Homo sapiens: one gene and its partner. The protein of the gene in region 1 interacts with the protein of each later gene in a pairwise test. Each region holds a gene or a part of one and is shown on either strand. Other genes may lie near its edges. The genes, in order: ARHGAP30 and RHOU.

Region 1 (9,465 bases):
CAGTGGCCTGTCTCCAGCAGACCCCCAGGAAGACTCTGGGAAGCAGGTGGACCTAGTGTCAGCCTCGGTGGTGGTGGTGGGTGTGATCGCCGCACTCTTGTTCTGCCTTCTGGTGGTGGTGGTGGTGCTCATGTCCCGATACCATCGGCGCAAGGCCCAGCAGATGACCCAGAAATAGTGAGTACTGGGCACTCCTGGGTGGGTAGAACTAAGCTGAGAACAAAGAAGAGGATAGCAGGAGGTGGGCCAGGACCGAGGAGACTGGGTAGGCTGAAAACTGAGGAGTTTCAGACTAGAGGTGGGCAGGGTGTTTCTAGGGCTGAGGAGGAGCTAAGGGTCTGGAGCACAGATGGAGCACTCAATCCTTCCACCTTAGTGAGGCTCAGATCCATGTGCCTGGATGTTGCCAAGTATGCACACGCACACAGCACACACATGCTCTTCAGCCTCACTGCCACCTGCAGCCACACACTCACACTTGCAGGGCCAGCACGGCACCCACACCCTCCGGGCCTGTCTCACTAGGCTCAGCCAGGATAGGCTCACCTTGGGAGGCTGCCACTACCCTCAGCTCCTGACAAGGGTGTGTCTTTCCCAGTGAGGAGGAGCTGACCCTGACCAGGGAGAACTCCATCCGGAGGCTGCATTCCCATCACACGGACCCCAGGAGCCAGGTGTGTGCCAAGGTTGGGTGTATGCATGCAGGGGTGTGGTCGCATTGGGGTCTGCTTGTGCCTGGGCCCCTCTGCAGACCAGGAGCACAGCTCTCTGCTGGGTCAGCCACTGACTCACAGCTGGGGTTGGCCGGGGTAGAGTTGAGAGGGTGTAGCTGCTTTGGGTCTGCTAGGGCTGCTCCAGAAGGCCCCCTTCAGCATTGGCCTAGGGCCTTTTCTGGGAAGCCACCATCAGTTCTGCTTCCAGGGTGGGTTTGTGGTCGCAGTGGGGAAATGAGGATGTTTGTTTCCAGGAGAGAATGGACCTGTTGGGTTGGGGGACAGGCAAGTAGGGAGGAGGCTGGTGGAGGACAAGAGGGGAAGAGGCTGAGGGGAGGAGGCTGAGCCCTGTTCTAACTGCCCCGTGTCTGGGCCCTGCAGCCGGAGGAGAGTGTAGGGCTGAGAGCCGAGGGCCACCCTGATAGTCTCAAGGACAACAGTAGCTGCTCTGTGATGGTGAGGCCCCCGGCCCCACCGGTGTCCCCACCACTCTCCTCGGGCCCCTGTCCTGGTCCCAGATATGGTGCGTCAGCAGCCCCCTTACCAGTCCCTCTTTCCTTAGCCCTGGCTCATGCAGCCCAGCACCGCATCTCTGCTACGTCTTTGTTCTCCCGTCTCCCTCTCCCCATGCCTAACACTTGTTCCTGGTCCCCGATCTCTGGGCCCCTATGCTTCTGAGGCAACCGTTACCCCTGCTTACGCCTGGCCTCTGATCCCACCATGACCCAGCCATGCCCCACCATGTGCAGCTGCCCTGCCTTTGTTCCTGACTTGCCCTTTGCCCTTGGTCTCCAGAGTGAAGAGCCCGAGGGCCGCAGTTACTCCACGCTGACCACGGTGAGGGAGATAGAAACACAGACTGAACTGCTGTCTCCAGGCTCTGGGCGGGCCGAGGAGGAGGAAGATCAGGATGAAGGCATCAAACAGGCCATGAACCATTTTGTTCAGGAGAATGGGACCCTACGGGCCAAGCCCACGGGCAATGGCATCTACATCAATGGGCGGGGACACCTGGTCTGACCCAGGCCTGCCTCCCTTCCCTAGGCCTGGCTCCTTCTGTTGACATGGGAGATTTTAGCTCATCTTGGGGGCCTCCTTAAACACCCCCATTTCTTGCGGAAGATGCTCCCCATCCCACTGACTGCTTGACCTTTACCTCCAACCCTTCTGTTCATCGGGAGGGCTCCACCAATTGAGTCTCTCCCACCATGCATGCAGGTCACTGTGTGTGTGCATGTGTGCCTGTGTGAGTGTTGACTGACTGTGTGTGTGTGGAGGGGTGACTGTCCGTGGAGGGGTGACTGTGTCCGTGGTGTGTATTATGCTGTCATATCAGAGTCAAGTGAACTGTGGTGTATGTGCCACGGGATTTGAGTGGTTGCGTGGGCAACACTGTCAGGGTTTGGCGTGTGTGTCATGTGGCTGTGTGTGACCTCTGCCTGAAAAAGCAGGTATTTTCTCAGACCCCAGAGCAGTATTAATGATGCAGAGGTTGGAGGAGAGAGGTGGAGACTGTGGCTCAGACCCAGGTGTGCGGGCATAGCTGGAGCTGGAATCTGCCTCCGGTGTGAGGGAACCTGTCTCCTACCACTTCGGAGCCATGGGGGCAAGTGTGAAGCAGCCAGTCCCTGGGTCAGCCAGAGGCTTGAACTGTTACAGAAGCCCTCTGCCCTCTGGTGGCCTCTGGGCCTGCTGCATGTACATATTTTCTGTAAATATACATGCGCCGGGAGCTTCTTGCAGGAATACTGCTCCGAATCACTTTTAATTTTTTTCTTTTTTTTTTCTTGCCCTTTCCATTAGTTGTATTTTTTATTTATTTTTATTTTTATTTTTTTTTAGAGATGGAGTCTCACTATGTTGCTCAGGCTGGCCTTGAACTCCTGGGCTCAAGCAATCCTCCTGCCTCAGCCTCCCTAGTAGCTGGGACTTTAAGTGTACACCACTGTGCCTGCTTTGAATCCTTTACGAAGAGAAAAAAAAAATTAAAGAAAGCCTTTAGATTTATCCAATGTTTACTACTGGGATTGCTTAAAGTGAGGCCCCTCCAACACCAGGGGGTTAATTCCTGTGATTGTGAAAGGGGCTACTTCCAAGGCATCTTCATGCAGGCAGCCCCTTGGGAGGGCACCTGAGAGCTGGTAGAGTCTGAAATTAGGGATGTGAGCCTCGTGGTTACTGAGTAAGGTAAAATTGCATCCACCATTGTTTGTGATACCTTAGGGAATTGCTTGGACCTGGTGACAAGGGCTCCTGTTCAATAGTGGTGTTGGGGAGAGAGAGAGCAGTGATTATAGACCGAGAGAGTAGGAGTTGAGGTGAGGTGAAGGAGGTGCTGGGGGTGAGAATGTCGCCTTTCCCCCTGGGTTTTGGATCACTAATTCAAGGCTCTTCTGGATGTTTCTCTGGGTTGGGGCTGGAGTTCAATGAGGTTTATTTTTAGCTGGCCCACCCAGATACACTCAGCCAGAATACCTAGATTTAGTACCCAAACTCTTCTTAGTCTGAAATCTGCTGGATTTCTGGCCTAAGGGAGAGGCTCCCATCCTTCGTTCCCCAGCCAGCCTAGGACTTCGAATGTGGAGCCTGAAGATCTAAGATCCTAACATGTACATTTTATGTAAATATGTGCATATTTGTACATAAAATGATATTCTGTTTTTAAATAAACAGACAAAACTTGTTCTGTCTGGCTCCTGTCTTGCCCCTTGAACTGTGTAAGCTCTGAGTCACATACTCTCTGTCTCGGTACCATCCTTCCTGTAGTCCCAAGTAGGGGAAGACTTAGGATGCCTGTAGCTGGGAGGGAAGGGAAAGAATTGGCCTCCACAAGGCCTTTGGCCATCTCTGAGAGTCCCCTGGTAGGAAAGTGAAGCTAAGAACCCTTTCGAGGATGGCCAGTACCTTAGTTTGCAAAGTGTTTTAAATTCCTTTTTTTTTTTTTTTTGAGATGAAGTCTCACTTTGTCACCCAGGCTGGAGTGCAGTGGCACTATCTCAGCTCACTGCAACCTCCGACTCCCAGGTTCAAGCGATTCTCTCACCTCAGCCTCCCGTATAGCTGGGATTACAGGCACCCGTCACCATGCTCAGTTAGTTTTTGTATTTTTAGTAGAGACAGGGTTTCACCATGTTGGCCAAGCTGGTCTCGAACTCCTGACCTCAGGTGATTCACCCGCCTCAGCCTCCCAAAGTGCTGGGATTACAGGCGTGAGCCACTGCGCCCAGCCTGAATTCCTTATTGTACTGGAGACTCAACAACAGCTATGTGAAATAGGCAGCAGTGTACCCTTTTTTACAGGTAAAGAAACTGAAACTCAAGTTAAATGAGTTTTACAGACTCTTAGAGGTGGGAGGATTTAAAGGTCCTCTAGTCTGCTCCCTTCATTTTCCTAGGTTTGGAAACTGAGGCTCAGTGAAGTAATGCGATTTGACTGAGGTGCTAGATCCATCAGAGGCAGAACCCAGGCATCCTCCCTTGTGAGTGTGCTTTTTACAGCCCTGTGTCAACTTGCTCCCAGGCAAGCCCCAGGTCTCTACCTTGGACCCAAGAATTCTGGTCTCTAAGGGAGTTGGTCACCTGCTCACACCACAGACGCCATCACCCCACCCCAGGGCTCTGACATCACCTCCCCTGACCAATGAATGAAGTCCAAGCAAAGGGTGAGGATGTGAATGTCAGCTACCTCCCCCACCCTAGGCCCTGTGGTTGCAAAGATGCTCTAACAGGAAGTGGGTTAAGGAGCTGCACTGCTTCCTGCCCCCTAAAGCTGAGCGGGGCGAGGAGGGCGAGTGCCAGGCTGGGCCACGAGACACAGGACACAATTTCTTGCCAGGGTCCTGGTAGCTTCCTCTTCAACAGCCACTTCCGTGTGGCCGGGGCCCCAGGGGCAGGAGCTGCTGCCCGTTGCCCAGGCCACCCTCCACCCCCAATTGGGAGCCCTGCCCCCCTGGGGCCGGGCCAAGCCCAGCAGCTGGCTGGGATCCCATGGGGGACTGGTAGGGCACAGGTCTTGGGGGATAGAGGTGACCGGGCCAGTGCCCTGGGGCTCTGGCCATGAAGTCTCGGCAGAAAGGAAAGAAGAAGGGCAGCGCAAAGGAGCGGGTTTTTGGGTGCGACTTGCAGGAGCACCTGCAGCACTCAGGCCAGGAGGGTAAGGAGGCCGGCTCAGCTTCTGCAGGGTGGGTGGGGAGGCACTGGGCATCTGCAGCCCGATCCAGCCTGAAGGGCAGAAGCAGTTTCCGGTGCTCCTGGGGAAGGGGCAGTGGCCTGGGGTCACCATTCAAGAGAACTGTAAGTGGGCAAGACAGGAAATGTGGCTCAGTGAAGAAGGCAGGGCGGCTCCCTTGTGTAACTTTCTGGGGATGGGGTGGCTGAGGGGATGAGAATGTGAGTACCCAGGTAGCAGTGAGGGGGAGGATGGAGAGACTGGAAACCGAGGAGGAGTGGATGAAACAGCGGGCAGGTGACTGGGAACAGGAGAGGGAGGGTGAGGCGACAGGGTCAGGAGAGGAGTGGCTGAAGGGGAAATGATTATCCTTAGGTCTGAATGAAAGGAGACAGGGAAATGGCCCCAGAAGGGTCTCAAGATGGCCCTTGAGGCGGGTGGTTTCCTGGCTGGAGAACACCCAAGGACAAGGTCATGGGCTCTGTTCCCACTGCAGCCTTGCTGGGCCGCAGGGGATGATGTCGGGCTGGAAACAACCTCTGCCCCTAGTCTTTGTGATTCTCTTGTTGTCCCTGTGCAAAAGAGAAACAGGTTCAAAGTGGGGGGCAAGGGGAGAAGCTGCTGAAATGGGGAAGAATGAAAGAGAGGGTGTGAGGCCTGGCTTGAAGCTGGAGGTGGAGGGTGCAAAGGAGGGTGGGTGTGGAGCTGTCTGTGGAGCTCACCCAGCTCCCTCCCTGGGTTACCTTAGAGTGGGCTTTGAAGCCAGAAGGACCAGGGACAATATCAGGTTCACAACGGGGCCTGGCATGGAGCAGCCACTCAAAATCATTTCTTGATTCAATTTGAAATTGAACCCAGGCACCCTGGCTGCCCAGCCCAGCTTGTTTTTGGCACTTCAAGCTCCTCCTAGAGAAAGGCATAATTCTTTCCCCACTCCACCCCATTCCACCCCACCCCAATCTGTCATTTCCTCTTTGTCCCCTCCTCTGCTCTGGGCTGTGGTGCTTGCAGCGGAGGGAGGGTGATGGTGGTTCCCAGATCATTTCCTGCTCTTAGCCCCGCCCCTGCGTCCCCAGACACCTCCTTCCCCTTTTCTCCTCCAGTGAGAGGACCCCTATCCCCATTGCCCTTGGTTAAGGGAAAGCCCAGACCCCAAGGAAGAGTGTTAAACAGCTGAAGCGAGCTTATTTGAGCCTTCCTCTTCTCACTGGGCAGAGTGGAGGTGGCACAGCCATCAGTGCAGGGCTTACTCCTTTCTAAGGGACTCCTCTCAAGAGCTATGATTCTTAGCCAAGGATTATGAGATTTAATTGGGGATGATGTGCTCCTCCCAGCTCAATGCAAACCCTCAGTTCAGCCTTTCCTGGTACTGCCCTTTTTTGTGGTCCACCAACCAATTTTATCTTGAAACACTGAACCCACAGCCAGCCCAGACCCTGCTCCTATAACCCTCCCGGCCTCTTCCTGGATTCCTAGCAGGGAAGGGGCACACTCTCTAGAGGGGACAGACAGATCTGATTGCTGAATCCTGATCCTAGGTGAATCCGAGAGCAGGAGACCAGAACCTCACAGAACCCAAGGGTGGGTTGATCTTGGGCACCAGAGTAGCAGTGGTGGCTCCTTCCCTATCCCTCAGGTCTTCCTGGTACAGAGAGGTGGAAAGTGGAAGGAAGGACAGAGAGAGGCTGGTGATGGTTCCTCTCTTTAATCCAACATCCACAAAAAAATGAGAGCAGAGAGATCTTTGTTTTCGCTTAATTTATCCTCCCTGATCACGTTGGTCTCCCCCATCCCCACAGCCTTGCTCCATCTCAGCCCTCTCTCCAGCTCTTTGCCCCCACATGGGTCTCTTCCTTCCTTAAGCCCTGTATATACTGAATTCTTTCTTTTCCTAATCTTTGATAGATTGTTCAGGTTTCTTTCTTTCTTTCTTTCTTTCTTTTTTGAGATGGAGTCTTGCTCTGTCCCAGGCTGGAGTGTAGTGGGGTGATCTCGGCTCACTGCAACCTCTGCCTCCCAGGTTCAAGCAGTTCTCCTGCCTCAGCCTCCAGAGTAGCTGGGATTACAGGCAGGCACCACCACACCCAGCTAATTTTTGTATTTTTAGTAGAGACAGGGTTTCACCATGTTGGCCAGGCTGGTCTCGAACACTGACCTCATGATCCACCCGCCTCGGCCTCCCAAAGTGCTGGGATTACAGGCGTGAGCCACCGCACCTGGCCGATTGTTCAGGTTTCTAATTCTCAGGTCCCTAAGCTTTTGGCCTTCCTCCCTGACCCTACTCTTATTTCCTCGATGTCTCCATCCCTTTGACTTCATCGCTCCAATCCTGTCTGTAGGTTTTATCTCTGATCTCATCTCTCTGATCTCTATCTCCCTAACTCCCCCATCTCTGTGACCCTGTTGTCTCTTCCCCCATCTCCTTGACCCAGTTCTTCTATGGCTGTGACTCCTTAGGCTTTTGAGTGTCCCCTTTAAAGGACTCTGGAGGTTCAAAATCAGCAGAGAAGGATAGGATAGAGAAGACCTGGTTTGTATGCTGCTCATGTGACAAAAACCTGGTGGTTTAGGTGACAGCAGACTATTTATGAGTCAAAAGAGTTGGCTTAGCATTAGGCACCCGAGAGTACAGCAGCAGCTCAGACAAGGAGGGGCCTGCCCTATCTCTGCATTCAATGCTGGGAACCTGAGGTCAGTGGGATCCTAGAAAATGGGAGTAGGTACTGAAACGATGGATGGTGAACTGTAGGACTGAGACTAAGACGAGGCAAGAGACATGACTAGGGTGCAAAATTTAAGGAAGCACTCACTTTCAGTGTCGTACAATTGCCCTAGGTGCCTTTTTTTTTTTTTTTTTTTTTTTTTTTTGAGATGCAGTCTTGCTCTGTCACCCAGGCTGGAGTGCAGCACAACCATCTTGGCTTACTGCAACCTCGACCTCCAGGGTTCAAGCAATTCTCCCTGCCTCAGCCTCTCGAGTAGCTGGGACTACAGGCACCACCACGCCTGGCTAATTTTTGTACTTTTTAGTGGAGACGGGGTTTTGCCATGTTGGCCAGGCTAGTCTTGAACTCCTGAGCTCAGGTGATCCACTCGCCTCGGCCTCCCAAAGTGCTGGGATTACAGGTGTGAGCCACCACACCAGGCCCCTAGATGCCTCATTCTCAAGGAGGTACTCAAGACCGTGCATGGGCATGGTTGGCATCTCCATGGCCCTGAGAATAAGTGCTTCCTTAAATTTTGCACACTAGATGCTTCCCTAATCCCACCCAACTCCTGGCTGTGGTGTGCAGGAGGATGAAGGGTCTGAAAGCCAGGTCGTATGAGGAGAGTTGAAAGATTTTGGTTGGCTGAGCATGGTGGCTCACGCCTGTAATCCCAGCACTTTGGGAGGCCAAGGCGGGTGGATCACTTGAGGTCAGGAGTTTGAGGCCAGCCTGGCCAACATGGTGAGATTCCGTCTCTACTAAAAATACAAAAATTAGCTGGACATGGTGGTGTGCGCCTGTAGTCCCAGCTACTCGGGAGGCTGAGGCTTCAGTGAGCCAAGACTGCACCACTGCACTCCAGCCTGGGCAACAAAGTGAGACTCTGTCTCAAATAAATAAATAAATAAATAAATAAATAAATAAATAAATAAATAAGGGGCCGGGTGCAGTGGCTCACGCCTGTAATCCCAACACTTTGGGAAGCCAAGGTGGGTGGATCACCTGAGGTCGGGAGTTTGAGACCAGCCTGACCAACATGGAGAAACTCTGTCTCTACTAGAAATATAAAAATTAGCCGGGCAGAGTGGTGGGTGCCTGTAATCCTAGCTACTTGGGAGGCTGAGGCAGGAGAATCTCTTGAATCTGGGAGGCGGAGGTTGCAGTGAACTGAGATCGCGCCATTGCACTCTCCAGCCTGGGCAACAAGAGTGAAACTCCGTCTCAGAAAAAAAAAGAAAAGAAAAAAGAAAAAAGAAAAAGAAAAAAGAAAAAGGAAAGATTGGGATTGATGAATTTATTGATTATTTTCTTCATTCCATATTTCTGTCATACTTTATTCAACAAAGAGCTTGGAATGACTTTCAAAACCTAAAACTTTACAAAAAATTAGAATAAATGATTGAAGGAATTGGGTTGAAGGAAAAACAAGAGGAAGAGAAAGATCAGCACCCAGAAATGCATATTACATTGTTCTGTATGGTTCTTAGAGGTGGGCTCTGAGCTTCCTAGTGGTTAAAGAGGTAAACATAGGCCAGGCCCAGTGGCTCACGCCTGTAATCCCAGCACTTTAGGAGGCCGAGGCAGGCAGATCACTTGTGGTCAGGAGTTCGAGGCCAGCCTGGCCAACATGGTGAGACCCCATCCCTACTAAATAACATAAAAATTAGCAGGGCATGGTGGCGTGCACCTGTAGTCCTGGCTACTCAGGAGGCTGAGGCACCAGAACTGCTTGAATGCACCCCAACTCAAAATAAATAAATAAATAAACATAATCAAGTGCAAGACTCATGGGCCCATAAGGAAAAAAAGTTAGATGGTTTAGGAGAACCACAGCTTTTTCCCCCTTCCCTTCCCTTCTTCCCTTCCCTTCCCTTCC
Region 2 (8,819 bases), about 68 Mb from region 1:
AGCGATCCTCTCACCTCAGCCTCCTGAGTGGCTGGTGGCTGGGACTACAGACAGTGCCACCACACCAGGCTAATTTTTTTATTTTGTAGAGATGATGTCTTGCTATGCTACCCAGGCTGGTCTCAAATTCCTGGCCTCATGCAATCCTCCCACCTCAGCCTCCCAAAGAGCATGAGCCACCACACCCAGCCTGATTTTTGTTTTCTACAGACAATACAATACGGACAGTGCTTGGTTTTTCCAAGCTGAAGTGCTCCCAAGCTATGGCCTGCACCAGCCCGGTGTTCCTTGGAGATCAAGGCTCCACGGTCTTATGTCATCTTCAGGTTTAAAAAATAAGATCTGTCCTTAGCTCTGAATCTGCTGTCCCAGAGTAGGTGAGCAACTTGGAAGCTCTGGCGTAGATGAGGCTCTGGGGGGCAGTGGAAAGCCAGTGCCTTCATAAACACAGATAGTCATGTGATGGCACCTCAGAAAGTGAAGGGGGCACTTTCACCTGCCTACAAAGTACCCCCGGAACTTTGCTGAACTCTAGAACATACTAGAGAGACAAGTTCATTAACTATCACTTTGCCAAAATCAAGTACCCCTGGGTGTTCACAAGGCACAGCCTGACTTCAATGACTCGAGTACCCACCAATGGGGGCTTCTTCTGGGGAACACAAAGAGGGAACCCTACACTCCCTGGCTATTTCCTCCAAGGGCCCAGCCCTCGAGACAAGAACCAGCGTTCACAGTTTGGATAGAATAAGCCCAGTTAGTTCATCCCTCCAGCTTAGGACTGCTCTGACAAATGTATCTGTGCTTCAAGTGATGGGGCTGGTCCTAGCGAGTCAAACCATAGCTCAGGAAGGGAAATATTAACCCTTACTGATGTAAATTCCATCTTTTTCTTGAGCAAATTTCTTCAATATCTGACTCACTGGCCTTTAATAAAACGATTATAAGACATCACTAACTTAGTTTGGGAAATGATGACAAAGCATCACTGAAATTTTTTCATAAAAACCAGGGAGTAAGTAATAGAAACTCCTACAAGAGCTGTTCTTGACACTGCTTCCTCCCTTGCCTGGTTACGCAGAGCTGGGCCAAACCCTGCTTTATTAGTTTGGAGGTATCTTCCTCTGCTTCCTGCCGGCCAATAACCTGGCCCCTGCCCACCCTCAGAGAAGGGCCAACAGCAGGGGTGGGTCCACTTCATGAGGCTTTAGAATGACCCAGTTACTGACTGAGGGAATCAAAGGTTATTTGGAAATCTTTAAAAGGCTGTTTCCTTTCCCAGCACTGAGCTGTAACGTGATACTGACCTGTCCGGCAGTGTCACAGAGTTGGAGTCTCACGGGCCGCCCATCCACAGACACCACCGCTTAAAAACAAAACCAAAATGACAATCAGGAGGTGTCTTTTAACCCCTTTCGGAATACTAATAGTTTTAGCTTTCACTATCATTCTCACTCCAAACCCCTTTGCTCCTATTTTAGGTCCTCTAATGAATTAAAGACTAGCCAAAAACAAGGAGGCCCTGTGGAGGCATTTTTGTATACAAACCCACGGCTGGCAAGTCACTCCATTACCGTGAACCAGGCAGCAAATCCCTGAACGCTTTGATGGTGACCCTAAAAAGGCCTATGCTTTTCTCCCAGTCCTGGAAGATTTATTTTCCTGTCACACTTGTTTCAAAGGACCTAAAAACAACACTGGGGGTAAATGGGAAGCAACCCTGCAGTTTTAAATCAGTGGAAAACCTCACAAATAATTCTGTTTTCCCTTGGGAAAGGTTCCCCAACTTCAGGGTTTATCATACAATTCTAGTGTGTTTTGAGAACATGTGCAAACACAGGCTGCCCGCATTGTCCTGTTTAAGAAATGAGGGCACTCCTTATCTCTATGTCAGGTCAAAAGGAGGATTAAAAAAGAAAAAAGAAAGCCATGGCCCCCTTTCCACTGGGATCCGGGGACTCGGGGAGTGTGGAGAGGCCTGCAGCAGGACATGTTGTGGAGGTTTCTATTTTAATTAAGCAGTCAGTTTTGTCTCTTTCTACACAACTTTCTAATTGTTTCTAAATATTTATACTAGTCAGCTGCAGGGGTGGGGTGGGGGGAGGGGAAGAAACAATACCCTGCGGTGGGAACCCACCAGTACAGCACCCATTTCTCTAAGGTACCTTTGGGATGAAAGGAAGGTCAGAGAAGCAATTTTTTTTTAAAGAAGCAAGACAGTTAAGTGTTTCATACTAGTTTCTGTGAATTTTAACTTTTTCTTAAATTTCAAAAAGACCTGAATAGCAAGATAGAGAATTCCTTTCTCTTTGTATCTACCAAGGGAAATGGCATCGCACCCGGTACATAGGAGCTTTAAGTAGCTTAAAGGGATCCTGAAAAGATACCAACAATCAGAATCCGAGCCCATGTGGGCAGGGAAGGTGGTGGGGCTCAGAAGAAAGAAATGGTGTTTACTCTTCAGGTTTCATCCAAACCTAAGCCTTCACGAGGGCCGCTCGCGCTTTTTCACTAAATCAAGTGTTTTCCCGGCGTCTCCGCGGCTCTTTAAAGCGGAGACGCCCCTTGTGAGCTGAGCCGCCTAAAAGCAAAGGAGCGACGCTCAGGTAAAGGCACCTGCGCGTCACCTTCTGATTGAAACTCTGCAGCGGCGCCAGCGACGTCGCCCTCAGGAAACTTTGCTCTATGCAACAAACTGACCGGGCACCCTGAACTCAACCTGTTTCACTCCTACTTATCTGTTGCTTAAATTGTGAGATTTTTTTTTTTTTTTTTTTTGGCAAGGCTCTGACTGCCGCTCCGCCCTCCTCTCTCCAAGCCCACTCCGCCGTGGTCCTTTCGTGTTAGCTCCGCGCTTGCCCGGTCCCTGAGACTCAGGAAACGTCCTGCACTCCTCATTTGTCCGGCTTCCCAGCTGGAGCCGCGCCCGGGGCCCTGCAGCCCCCTTGGGAACCTCGCGACCCTCGCGCCACCTTCCTTCCCCTGGGTGGACCGCGGCCACGCGCCCCCGGCCCCGGCCCCCCGGCCAGCTCACCGGAGAAGTTGTCGAAGGCAGTAGGGATGTACTCGGTGGGGTAGCCGTTGGTGGTGTAGCTCACCACCAGGCTCGTCTTGCCCACCGCGCCGTCGCCGACCAGCACGCACTTGACGCCGCGCCCCTCGGCACCCCCCGCACGCCCCCGGCCCCCCGGCTCCCCAGGCCCGCGTCCCCCGCGTCCACCGCGCTCCCGACGCGGCGGCACCGGAGGCGCCTCGCAGCGGTCGGGGAACGCGGGGTCCCCCTGCTGCGGGGGCATCGATCCGCGAGCGCGGGCTTGCGGTCGCGGGCTAGCAGGGCCCGGCCCGACCGCCCCTCCGCCCCGGAGGGTTGCGGTAGGGAGGAGCTGTCACCGACAGCTGCGGGCGCGTCCCCGGCCCTGGAGAGTGGCGGTTCCGGGCCGCACGGCCAGTAGACAAAGGCGGCCAGGGAGGGTCGTGGCTCCGCGCTCCGGCGGCGCCAGCCGCTCTGCCCTGCGCTGTTGGAGGACAGCGGTCCGAGCGCCGTGGATCCCAAGCGCTCTGTCTCCGCCCGGCTTCCCGGCGACACGACGCGTGGGGGGCGGGCAGGCGGGCGGGCTGGCGGGGAGGGAAAAGAGGCGGGTCTGGCCGAGCGGCTCGGTCCCCGCGCCAAGACCACAGCGCCCCCCGCCTGCGCGCCGCGCGCCTGCACCCGCGCCCGAGGCGCCGCCGCGACCAGGCGGGGACTGCGAACACTGGCGCGGGAGGACCTGGAACACACGTTCCGGGGGACCCCGCGCACCCGGTCCGGGAAGCGACGCCCGAAGGAGCCGGGCCAGCCTCCGCAGCCTCCTCCCCAGCTCCCAAGAGGGTGACCACCGCGCGACTGGCCCGGGAGGTTCCGCTTTCTGGCGCCCACGCGAGCCAGGAAGCCTGAGCCGCCTCCTATTCACTCCGTGGAGCCCCCGGCTGGCCACGGCTCCACCCAGGGGGAAAAATGAAGTGTCCTGGAGGCCTGTCCTGCGAATGAGATTGAATTAACAGACAGCTTTTTTCCTTAAGTCTAACTGCAGCTGATCGTGTGATTTTTTCTCATTTTGAAGCAAAAGGATGCCAGCTCCATTGTGAATGCTCCTTTGACTTTGTCTTTCGGCATGCCGTGAACCTTTATACATGTATGCTCCAGAAATTTTTTTATACCCCCAATTCCTTCATTTACTTAAAGGTAATTCGGAGACATTAATATGTCTGAAAAAATATTCCGTTTCCCTTTGATTCATTTCTCTCTCTGCCTTCCTTCTACATGTGGTCAACAGTCTATTCAGAAAAAGGACGCCTCTTAGCCAAGTCAGAATACCAAGAGTCCTGGGGGTGTACAGCGTGGTGTGAGAAGGGCCACATATTATTAATACACATTGATACTAGTGGTAGTAAAAATAACAATAACAAATACTGAACTTTCATAATGTGTCAGATACTGTTGTAAGCACTCTTCAAGAACTAATTCTTTTAATCTTAACATTACTTACAGATGAGAACACCTGAGGCACAGAGATATTAAGTAACGTTTTGGGATTCCACAAGCTAGTAAGTGGCAATGCCAGGATCCAAACCCAAATAGTCTAGCCCCAGAGCCTGAGCTTCTAACCAAAATCCTGGAGGCAAAAATAAGTCAGTATGATAAACGTAATCTTGAACGTATGGCCATGGTCAGAATGCAGAGATGGATTTATCAAGAAGTTAGAAGCTTGAATCCAGGACCCCTGACTTGCAAAGGACACTTTCACATTGGAAGACCTAGCAATGTGTACACGTGGTAATATGTTTCTGTAAATTTTGAAAAAAAAAAAAGTATTTTAATCACCACCAGTTATGTTCACTGTCTTTTTAAACTGTAACTTACCCTCATATTGAGTGACTTTGAAGAGGCCATGAAGATTTTGGGGATCAGCCAAAGAAAGTGAAGTTGGGGAGACCCAAACAGGTTGTTTGGGTGTAATGGGATACAGAATCAGGATGAAGGTGAGATAAGGGGGATGTCAAGGATGCAAAATTTATGACAAATTGAGCATTCAGAGGCAATATCAAAAAACAACAAATTTAGAGGGCCCTTACTCTCAGGGTCAGGCAAGTGCCAATGTTAAGTTTTGAGCCTCAGGTACCTGACTTGCCTCTCCCTCGCCCTGGCTGTGATGACAGGATATATTTATGTGGTTTACAGTTCTCCTATGTAGATATGTTGTTGCTAGCCATCCAGGTATAGGAATGGCTACCACTGACATACCTATGACCCTCTGTGAGAGTCACATTGGTGCCCTTAACTGTCTTACTTTCCCCAACACTAGAAGGGTTCCAGTAGCAAGAGTAGCAGAGCTTGAGATGGGCAGAGCTGGAAGCTAGTCTGGCAATTCTTTCCATCATAAAGCACCTAATATCGGCTGGTGCGGTGGCTCACGCCTGTAATCCCAACACTTTGGGGGGCTGAAGCAGTCAGACCGGTTGAGGCCACGAGTTCGAGACCAGCTTGGCCAACATGGCGAAACCCTGTCTCTACCAAAAATAAAAAAATTAGCCAGGTGTGGTGACTCACACCTGTAATCCAAATACTCCAGAGGCTGAGGTAGGAGGATCACTTGAGCCTGGGAAGTCGAGGCTCCAGTGAGCCCTTGATCAACCAATATACTCTAGCCTGGGCGAGAGTGAGACACTGTCTCAAAAAGAAACAAACAGAAGAAAACACAACATTGTTAGAGAAGGTTTGGTTCTCTCTACTAAACCTGATCAAAACAGAAGTTGTCTGCTGTCAGAAATGTACCTGTACTCTAAATGCAGCAGATACACTTACAAATGCATCATACATTTTTGGAGAAAAATCACATGAAATGAATGATCTGAATTCCCATGTTTGTAAGGACATGAGGCTGTAGTAGTACAACAAAAAGCAAGTTCACCTGTGTGTGAAGTAACTTCCTATTGTTCTTATAGAAAATATCTTACAAAACTGAAGAAGTGATCAAAGGGTATGCAACTGAAAAATGAAAATAATGTCATAGAAGTGTGTCAAGCAGTTTATTAAAATGTCATGTCTTATGTATTTTGTTTAAGTTTATGGTGTTTGTTAGCCTTTTAAAATTTGTAACTTATTGTGATGCATTTCTCACTTTAAACATTTGTTTTTGTATCTAATTTTCTATTCTTAATTTTGTATTTTTTTTTCTTAATGAAGTCTCACAAATGTGATAAGCCTCAGGCCCTACAAAACTTGGCTTTGCCCCTCCATCTGGCCAGCTGTCAGTTTTTGTGTCCTGTGCGTCCCCCTCTTGCTTTTCCCCTTCTCATGCTGAATATCATCCCACGCCCACTCATTTGGGCCCGTTTTTCTGGACACAACTTAGTCAGCTCCCTGCATCCTTATCTAAAATGCCGGGAACTAATGTTTGCCCTATTCATGAGACTCTTCTGTAGGCAACATAGGAAATCAGACCCCACGCCAAACAGTTCGGTATTTCATCCAAGTCCAAAAGCAGAGAGATGACAGAATGCCTACCACTTTACCCCTTTACAGAATGCCTTTACTTTACCCCTTTTTACGTTGAACTGTCCCGCACCCACTCATTTGGGTCCATGTTTCTGGGCTCGACTTAATCAGTCCCCTACAGCCTTATCTAAAATGCTTGGAACTAATGCTACAAGAAGCCCTCCAAGGTGTGTGGGTTCAAGTTGTATGATATATTTGTTTGTTTATTTGCTTATTGTCTGTCTCCTCTTACAAGCTCCATGAAATCAGAAACTTAATGTTGCTCATTCCTATATCCCACACTTAGAAGCACGTGGGGCAAGTAGTAGGTGCTTAATAAATACTTAAGCAGTGGTAAATACGTAAGTGAAAGGAAAACATGTTTTGAACTTGACGGTTCTGCAAAAAAGAAAGAAAGAAAAGGAGAAGAATGTAAAACATGGACTCTCAAAACATGGACAGTTGTATTTTTATGCTTTTATAAAATATTTTTAGAATGAATGAAGGAAATTTGACCACTTCTTGCAGCTATTAATAGAAAACCATGTCTTTGCTCAGTTTTAAGACAAAAAATGCATTACACCTCATGTATTCCCATTTGTTTTTCACCAAGACAGTACAACGCCTTCATTGTGCAGTGGGCCTAGAAAATTCTGAAAACTGGGTGCAGAATTTCCGTTCTTAAGATCTTGTCTCTCTGAGGCCCTCCAGCCCAGCTGTGAGCATTCATCCCCCCTACCTACCCCCAACACCTCCTCCAGGACTTCCAGCAACCCACCCCTGGGTCCCCAACAACATGTCAGAGAAGGTGTCTTCTCCTCGAACTACAGGTCTGTAACCCCTTCCTCCTTCTTCCATGAACTTGCTCTTTCTCCGCTTAGGTGTCACCTCCTCCAAGGATGTTTATTTTTCTGCCTAATTTTCTATACTTAATTTTGTGTTCTTTTTCTTAATGAAGTCCTCAAAATGTGATAAGCTTCAGGCCCGACAAAACTTGGCTTTGCTTCTCCATCTGGCCATCTGTTCGTTTTTGTGTTCCATAGCCTCCCTCTCTTGCTTTACCCCTTTTTATGTTGAACTGTCCCACACCCACTCATTTGGGCCCATCTTTCTGGGCTCAACTGAATCAGTCCCCTACAGCCTTATCTAAAATGCTCAGAACTAACGCTTGCCCTATTCATAAGAATCTTCTACAGGCAACGTAGGAAAGCAGACCTCCACACCAAACAAATTGGTGTTTCATCCAAGTCCAGAAATGTTCCCTGACCCCTTATGTGGATATATTTGTGCTTGTCCCTATCACAGCCCTTATCTAGTGAAATCATCTACTGATTATACAACACCTACCCTTGCTCATAATCCCCTAAAAGGGAGGATCCCCAGTTCACAAAACTCTTCCCCTAGCACAGTATTAATACATTTTCTAGGATTTTTTCCATCAAGTTATTTTAACTGTTCCACTAGCAAATAATTAATAGTGAATTTGTAGTTTTTTACTAAAATGGTAAAAAGAAAAAAAGGTCCTAATAGACTTTCCACTGTGTACATGTCACTTTTGTATCTTTTGATATATTTAAGAAATAAATAAATTTTTATCTGCTCAACATATTCCTTGCCAGGTGTCATTGTCATCATCATATTAAATATAAAGCTGTTTTTCCTGCTATTGATAACATTTCACCATTTACTGAGTACCAAATCAGAACAGCACGGTTTTTTTGGATCTTTCATTTTAGCAGGTCATATAACTCTGTGTGTTCATTCACTCTTTAAATGGTAACCCTTTGCCTTGGACACATTAATCTGATTTCTTTCCTTCAGCAGTGCCCTAGTTTTTTCAATACCCTATAAGAGGACATCAGAAGAATATTTCTCTAGAACTGGAGACTCTAAGCTGGGTTGTCTATTGCCAGCATGGCTGTCTGCTCCCAGAATTTCCTTCTTTGTATGGTTCTCGGCTAAAGTTGTCCGGAGACATGATTCTCAGAATTGAGAAGACTGAAGGGAAGTGGAGGAGGGTCATATGGTCAAACATGCCAGTGGATGGACACAGCGGTGCCCAGCACATCCTCACTAGCCTCCTGCTTTGCAGTGATATCATCTCACTGCTGGCTCTGCTGACCCAGAGCAGCCTTCAGCCCTCACCCAGCCCCTGGGCCCCAAAGAGGCTGCAGTCCCTACACCTCATGCCTCAAGCTTCCCTTCCACAGCCTCCAAGGGCCATATCTGCATAACTTACTATTGGCTTTTCTCCAAGTTCCCACCAGTATCCTGCACAAGGGTTTCAGCTGGTCAGGGTTAGGCA

The links.
Region 2: the proteins of ARHGAP30 (region 1) and RHOU interact in binary tests that used the Homo sapiens proteins (3 or more experiments, as listed by UniProt).

The regions. Positions count from the first base shown.
Region 1 is NC_000001.11:161,064,929-161,074,393, reverse strand, and holds the start of ARHGAP30 (rho GTPase-activating protein 30), read left to right. Parts: upstream 1-4,502; 5' UTR 4,503-4,769; coding exon 4,770-4,866; intron 4,867-9,465. Other genes in the region: NECTIN4 (nectin-4), read left to right, coding at 18-177, 599-674, 1,095-1,169, 1,509-1,733. UniProt on the Homo sapiens protein: GTPase-activating protein (GAP) for RAC1 and RHOA, but not for CDC42.
Region 2 is NC_000001.11:228,730,220-228,739,038, reverse strand, and holds the start of RHOU (rho-related GTP-binding protein RhoU), read right to left. Parts: upstream 3,561-8,819; 5' UTR 3,297-3,560; coding exon 3,035-3,296; intron 1,367-3,034; coding exon 1,308-1,366; intron 1-1,307. UniProt on the Homo sapiens protein: Binds to and activates protein kinase PAK1. Plays a role in the regulation of cell morphology, cytoskeletal organization and focal adhesion assembly during cell migration. Also stimulates quiescent cells to reenter the cell cycle.